2 linked regions of the Homo sapiens genome follow. The protein of the gene in region 1 interacts with the protein of each later gene in a pairwise test. Each region holds a gene or a part of one and is shown on either strand. Other genes may lie near its edges.

Evidence for each region.
Region 2: the proteins of PIP4P2 (region 1) and GTF2IRD1 interact in a two-hybrid assay, tested with the Homo sapiens proteins (one large-scale study listed by BioGRID).

Annotation. Positions count from the first base shown.
Region 1 is NC_000008.11:91,016,563-91,020,429, forward strand, and holds part of PIP4P2 (type 2 phosphatidylinositol 4,5-bisphosphate 4-phosphatase), read right to left. Parts: intron 3,702-3,867; coding exon 3,595-3,701; intron 1,952-3,594; coding exon 1,828-1,951; intron 1-1,827. UniProt on the Homo sapiens protein: Catalyzes the hydrolysis of phosphatidylinositol-4,5-bisphosphate (PtdIns-4,5-P2) to phosphatidylinositol-4-phosphate (PtdIns-4-P).
Region 2 is NC_000007.14:74,554,691-74,558,557, reverse strand, and holds part of GTF2IRD1 (general transcription factor II-I repeat domain-containing protein 1), read right to left. Parts: intron 3,385-3,867; coding exon 3,335-3,384; intron 3,166-3,334; coding exon of another isoform or gene 3,121-3,165; coding exon 3,064-3,120; intron 920-3,063; coding exon 836-919; intron 1-835. UniProt on the Homo sapiens protein: May be a transcription regulator involved in cell-cycle progression and skeletal muscle differentiation. May repress GTF2I transcriptional functions, by preventing its nuclear residency, or by inhibiting its transcriptional activation.

The DNA of each region.
Region 1 (3,867 bases):
AGACAAATTATAAAGTGAATGTAAGATCAGATTAAAAACCACTTAAGAGAAAAAGAGCTCAAATATAATATTTCCCTGCATCTTTTCTCAGAAAGCAAAGAGTAGATGTGCTCCACCAAAATGAAGGAATAAACTAAGAACTCTGAGGATGGCATGGGATCCAACACAGGAAAGAGGTAAAAGGAATTTTCATGATGATGGTGAAGGGAAGGATGACAACTATGTAGCAGGAAGCCTAAATAAGAGATTCCTTGATGCAATTAATTATAGTAATAGGTATTTTATAGTTCTACACAAGAATATGAGAAGAATGAATGATTTACACATAGAAAATTAAATCCAAAGGAGGGGGCAATTATTTGTAAGTCCAAGAAAATGTTAAAATGCATGCACAAGAAAAATGTACCACATTGCTTGGTTCAGCTGTGAACAAAATTTACCTAATCATAAAAATTGTAAACACTAAGTATTAATTAAACAAAATGTTGCAATTTGACTGGGAGTATGAAAGCAAGGAAAGGAATATGAGTGGGAGGGCAGTATAAGTGCTAAGTTCTCATTTTGCAGTTTACTATTTAGTGGGTAATGTCTAAAATTGCTTAATCAAATAGAAAAAGGATAAGCAATTTAAACACATAGAAGTCTGGCCAACATTATGTAACCCCATCTGTACTAAAAATACAAAAATTAGCCAGGTGTGGTGGTGTGCACCTATAATCCCAGCTACTTGGGAGGCTGTGGCAGGAGAATTGCTTGAACCCGGGAGGCAGGGGTTGCAGTGAGCTGAGATCACGCCACTGTACTCCAGCCTGGGCGACGGAGTGAGACTTCATCTCAAAAAATAAATGAATAAATAAATAAAAATTTAAAAATTATAAAAAATAAACACATAGAAGTGACTATCAATAAAGTAGCTGAAAGAGTTGAAAGCATTTTGGGAACAGTAACTAGGGGTCAGCTAGATGAGAAGATTGCAGTCCCATTTGACATTTAGAACTATATACATAAAGTTCTTTAATAAAAGTAAAATTACAAATAAAAAAAAGCAAACCACTTATATTTTCTTAAGCTCATTCATGTCTTAGTGACAGCAGGTTTTGTTTAGACTCCCATGTGTATACTCTGATAAATATTTTTCATATTCAAGTTCTAAAGAAAATGTTTGTCTCCTATATGGGCTGAACAATAAAAGAAAACCTGTCCTTATCCTTCCTGACAGGGTAAGTTAATTATGAATTTAACTTTAAAAAAAATCAAACTAAGTTTAAGTTAGAAGTAGTAAAACAAAAACTTTTATAACTTTTGCTCATATCAAATTACTTATACTTTCTTATTCTTTATCTAATGGTTTTATCTAATTATGGGTAACAGTGTTAATTCCCTTTGCTCCAAGAATAATTTATAAAAGTCAGAAAATTTTTGATAAATTATTATTCAAATTTTTCCTCAATCTAGAAGCCATGAAGCAAATCTACTGCATGAGATTGTGCACTTTGACCTCTGCTGAGCAGGTGAGAGCAGGGCTAAGACTCAGCTGCTCCCCAAGCCAAGATACTCATGGAACTAAGCCTGGGCACGATTTCTCATTGGCCTACATAGAGAGGATCCTTTTTGCAACTGGACTTATCAGAGGACGTACCTTTTATCTAGTTCACAGAAGATGCTCTATATCCTAGTTGCACTTCTGATTGTCTGCCTAAATAAGTCTCTATTTTAATATTTTGATTAATTTGCATTTGGACAAAACTATAAGACTATGAGCAGTGCTCTAATCTGTAAGATCATGACCTATATTTACAGATTAATGACAAATGTCCAGTGACTTACCAGGAATGTGTTTCCACAGTGCCCACACACGACCCTTGTACCTTCTGGTTGGATTGGCAATGCAGGCTGAGCTGGTTGTTCTTCAGAAATAAGCATTACTGGGCCAAGGTTAATTATCCGTCTACTGTGAAAAGAGAAAGGAAACAACTTCACTATCCCACAAATGGACTGAGAGCAAAACCTGCAACATATGGCCAAAAATATGAAATGTGCTATACTTGTTTCATAAATTAAGTGAATTAAATGTCAAGCTGGAGGCAAAACTACAAAGAGTAGCAACAGTCAGTTTTTCAAAAGCAAAATATGAGTCTGTACTTGGGATAGAAACAATATATTATAGCATTGGTCCTAATCAATGGCAACCATTTAACTGTCATTTCCAAGTTTTTGTAAGTTCAAATCAGAAAACAGTTGTTACCCTTCCTTATCTAGGAAGCCAACTTGAGTTTGGTAGAAGACTAAGTTAAAAATATTCTATACCAACAAAAATCTCTGTGCCATGAAGGCACCGAAGGGCTGGGTTACAACCAAATTTCTCTGAGCAGTGTGATATTCCTTGATGCGTATTTAATCAGAGATGAAAAGAAAGCAAACAGGATCCTGCTTTCATTTCTATTCTCTAGTCTATCATTGGATAGGGCTGTACATGATTCATGTAATGGTCAAAAAGCTAGAGAGATCACAGAAAAAAAACACAAGTAAGGCCTTTATATACTTGTATCTGGGGACATCCATAATGGTACTGGGCATGAGCGAATAATTCCAGAATTTATTGCACATATACATTCAGCAGAGATTAGTATAATATACAGTGAGATACACAAAAATAACTAAAACACTTGCAGGTGAAGATTAATTATATCAAAAGTAAACTAAGTGATTACTTTTTTTTTTTTAAGAGATGGGCCAGGCATGGTGGCTCATGCCTGTAATCCCAGCACTTTGGGATCACTTGAACCCAGGAGTTCAAGACAGCCCGGGCAATATGGTGAAACCCTGTCTCTACAAAAAAAAAAAAAAAAAAAAAAAAAAAAATATATTACCTGGGAGTGGTGGTGTGTGCTTGTAGTCCCAGCTACTCAGGAGGAGGCTATAGTGGGAAGGCTTTCAGGGCAGAAGGTAGAGGTCACAGTGAGCCAACTCTTTTGAGACTCTTCCCGTTGAGACTCTGTCTCAAAAAAAAAAAAAAAGAGAGAGACTAACAGATGGGGTCTCACTCTGTTGCCCAGGCTGGAGTGCAGAGGCACAGTCATAGCTCATTGAAGGCTTTAATCCCTAGGCCCAAATGATACTCCTGCCTCAGTCTCCCAAGTAACTGGGAATATAGGTGCATGCTGTCACACCTGGCTAATTTTTTGTAGAGATGGGGTCTCACTATGTTGCTCAGTTTGGTCTCAAACTACCAGCTTCAGGCAATCCTCCCACCTCAGCCTCCCAAATTGCTAGGAATACAGGCATGAACCACTGGCCTGACCTCATTATTTTTAAATACGTTCAATGTGTCATTGATTTATTACAGTGCATTAAGTACTTACATAACACAAAGAAAACATTCATTGCTCATTTAAGAATATTATATCCTACAAATATCTATGACTAAGTTCAAACTAAGCTTATCATTCCTTTAACAAAAAAATAATCTAGATTCTGGAATGACTTTGAAAACAAAAACTCTTTCTAGAACAAAGCCTGGCACTGAAGAACCTTTAGTAAATACTTGTTGAATGAACAAATGAATGAATCAATGAATTAATCTTTATCTCTTACCAGTTGGGTCTTGGGCATCCTATTCGCCGAGATGTGTCCTTACAAATGAGAAGACAATTACAAGGGCATCTAACATATTTCTTGCCTGTTGGGGGGTTTTTGATTGGCTGGATAAGGGAAGAAAATGCAAACACAGCAATTAACCAAAGTACAGATTGTCAAAGTTTGTTTGTGTTTAAAAAGGAAAGGATTCCATTAAAACTAATGAAATATATTGCTTTTGTAACTTAAGGTTTTATTTTATGATTTTTCTATAAAACATATGAAGTCAAG
Region 2 (3,867 bases), on another chromosome or scaffold:
CCTGTCTTTACTAAAAATTTCTAAAAACTAGTTGGGCATGGTAGTGCCCAGTGGGGTGTAGTTCCAGCCACTTGGGAGGCTGAGGCAGGAGGATTGCTTGAGCCCAGGAGTTTGAGGCTGTAGTGAACCATGATCACGCCACTGTACTCCAGCATGGGTGACAGAGTGAGACCCTGTCTCAAAAAAAAAAAAAAAAAAAAAAAAAAAAAAGAAACGAAAGAAAAAGCCACACCAATATGCTCCCATGTCATATGCTCCATTTTTTTTTTTTTTTTTTTGAGACGGAGTTTCGCTTTTGTTGCCTAGGCTGGAATGCAATGGCGCGATCTCAGCTCACTGCAACCTCCCCCTCGCAGGCTCAAGCGATTCTCCTGCTTCAGCTTCCTGAGTAGCTGGGACCACAGGTGTGCACCACTGCACCTGGCTAATTTCTTTTTTGTGTTTTTGGTAGAGATGGGGTTTTGCCATGTTGCCCAGGCTGGCCTCGAACTCCTGAGCTCAAGTGATCCACCTGCCTCAGCCTCCAAAAGTGCTGGGATTACAGGCAGGAGCCACTGTGCCGGGCCCTTGTCTATTAAATTCTGTGTGTAGTTCTTGAAAGTGTATCTCACCTCATTGGTCTGCAAGGCTCATGAGTACAGGGACTGTGTCTGTTTTATTCACAGCAATATCCCCAGTGCCTGAGACAGTGCCTGGCACGTAGTATATGCTCAAGAAATACATGTAAAGGGGTGAATTGTTTCCCCAGAAATGCCCTCGGCTGGAACTGGGAAGCCTCCCACTTCTCTGTGCACAGCAGCTGCGTGTCCCTCCCCGGGGGTTCTGCACTGCTTACCGTATTTCTTATTGAAAAGGTCCTGGACCTGCTCCCTTAGTGTGTTGGCGATGTCGATCCGTGAGAGCCTCGCGTCATAATTTTCTGCAAAGCGCAAAACGATTATGGGTTTGGGCTGTTGAGTGAAAAAGCACTTGGTGACTTTTAAGGAAGATGATTTTCTAATTATGGGGAACTCCTTCTCCGGCAATTAAAGGATCTTTGGAGTGGGCCCCTCAGGTCCTTCAGCACCGACATGTTGATGGAGATGTCTTTTTTTCAGAAGGACATGCACTGTTGCCACAACAGTGATGAGTTGGAAATTAAGTTAATTGATGACATTTGAAAACCACCAAACCAATAAATAAGCCCCGGAGGGGAGGGACACCATAGAGTACGGAGTCCTGTGCCCTGGGCTGGCAGGCAGGGGGCGGGGGCTTCATGAAGTCACTAGGGGGCTGGAGACAAGCGAGGGAATGGAAGCCCAGCTGATCTAGCAGATGGAGGAGGATGGGCAGTCCCCACAGACACAGGGGATGGGCCTGGCGGCTCCCAATGGAACCTCCACCTCCCAGGCTCAGGCGATTCTCCTGCTTCAGCCTTCTGAGTAGCTGGGACCACAGGCGTGCACCACCGCACCTGGCTAATTTCTTTTTTGTGTTTTTGGTAGAGATGGGGTTTCGCCATGTTGCCCAGGCTGGCCTCGAACCCCCAAGCTCAAGTGATCTGCCTGCCTCAGCCTCCAAAAGTGCTGGGATTACAGGCATGAGCCACCAAGACACCCTCACCCAGAAAGTGTTCATTAAAAACGCCCAAGTGTGACCGGGCGCGGCGGCTCATGCCTGTAACCCCAGCATTTTGGGAAGCTGAGGCAGGAGGATCACCTGAGGGCAGGAGTTGGAAACCAGCCTGGCCAATGTGGTGAAACCCTATCTCTACTAAAAATACAAAAATTAGCCAGGCATGGTGGTGCGTACCTGTAATCCCAGCTACTTGGGAGGCTGAGGCAAGAGAACCCCTTGAACCTGGGAGGTGGAGGTTGTAGTGAGCCAAGATCGCACCACTGCACTCCAGCCTGGGTGACAGAGCAAGACTCTGTCTCAAAAAAAAAAAAAAAAAAAAAGCTGGGTGCAGTGGTTCATGCCTGTAATCCCAACACTTTGGGAGGCTGAGGTGGGCAGATCATCTGAGGTCAGGAGCTCGAGACCAGCCTGTCCAACATGGTGAAACCCCGTCTCTACTAAAAAATACAAAAATTAGCCGGGTGTGGTGGCACGTGCCTATAATCCCAGCTACTTGGGAGCCTGAGGCAGGAGAATTGCTTGAACCCGGGAAGCGGAGGTTGCAGTGGGCTGAGATCACGCCATTGCACTCCAGCCTGGGCAACAAGAGTAAAACTCCATCCAAACAAACAAACAAAGACAAGTGCCAGCATGTGCTGGAGGGATCCCAGACCACCATCTCTCTCTCTCTCTCTCTTTCTTTTTTTTTTGAGACAGGGTCTTGCTCTGTCACCCAGGCTGGAGTGCAGTGGCATGATCTCGGCTCACTGCAATCTCCGCCTCCCAGGTTCAAGCGATTCTCCCGCCTTAGCCTCCCTAGTAGCTGGGATCACAGGTGCACGCCACCTCGCCCAACTAATTCTTGTATTTTTTTGGTAGACACGGGGTTTCACCATGTTGGCCAGGCTGGTCTTGAACTCCTGGCCTCAAGTGATCCACCTGCCTCGGCCGCCCAAAGTGCTGGGATTACAGGCGTGAGCCACTGCACTCGGCCTCTGATTTCTTTTCTTAAAAATAGACATAGAGACGGGTTCTATGTTGTCCAGGCTTGTCTCGAGCTCCCAGCCTCAAGCGATCCTCCCACCTTGACCTTCCCAAGTGCTGAGATTACAGGCGTGAGGTGCCGCGTCTGGCTCCTATTCTGATTTCAAAGCACTAAGACCACAGCTGATTGCTGAAAAAGGAGTGGGCGTGTCAGCTACCTCTGGGGGGTGGGGCAGGGAGGGGGCAGGCAGGCTCCTGGGCTCCCCCGACCGTCCACCTGTAGGCACCCCCTCTCCCCTGGAGTCTCTAACACAGAGCTGGCAGGGTACAGCCGGGCCTGGGCTGCCAACCTGGCTTGCCTGGTCCCTTAGGCCCTGAAGTTGGGGGCCAGCTCCTCCCCACTTCCAGCCTGGCCCTCCAAACCCAAACCAGGTCAATGTCCTGGTGCTGGGACAACAGACCTCCCCGTGAGCTCAACCTTACCTTGAAAGCCCTGTCTCTTCAGGCTCTCGTCCACCAGAGGGTCCCCGGAATCCCTCTCTGGGGGCAGGGCAGGGGGAGAGAAGCCAAGTGAGGAGGCAGTTCCTGGGACCCAAGATGGCATCGTTAGGGGAAACCCAATGTGGGGGTGTGGGGAGAATGCCAGGGCCAGGATGGGAGCAGGACAGAGGCAGCAGGAGGAGGGGCTGGTGGCAGAGGCCTGGGGCCCTCCCTTGCCCGCCCACACCATGGCTCCCGACCCCGCGCTGGGTACCTTGACTATCCATGATGGGCTCTTTGACTCCCTCAGTGAGCAGCTCGGGCCTGGAAAACACAAGCGAGGCTATCACAGAGGTCCCTCCAAGCATCTCTGGGACTGCTCAGCCCTCCTCTCTGGGCCTCAGTCTACACAGCCCTGCAATGGACCCTTCTGGCTATGCATAGTTCAGGCCTGGAGTCCCTGCCGCCCCACATGTGGAATCTGGGGGGCTGCGCTGGGCTTGAAGGATCCAGCTGGGAGTGAGACCCCCCCCAGTCCTGAACAGGTCCATCTGATATCTCACTCCTGCTCCAGGGACATTGCACGATTGTCACTGCCTGGGATTGGAGCAGGTGGCCTCAGGTGGCCTCCCGTGGAGCTGGTTTAAAGTGTAGAAACAAGGTCAGGTGCAGTAGCTCACGCCTGTAATCCCAGCATTTTGGGAGGCCGAGGAGGGCAGATCACTTGAGGTCAGGAGTCTGAGACCAGCCTGGCCAACATGGTGAAACCCGTCTCTACTAAAAATACAAAAATTAGCCAGGTGTGGT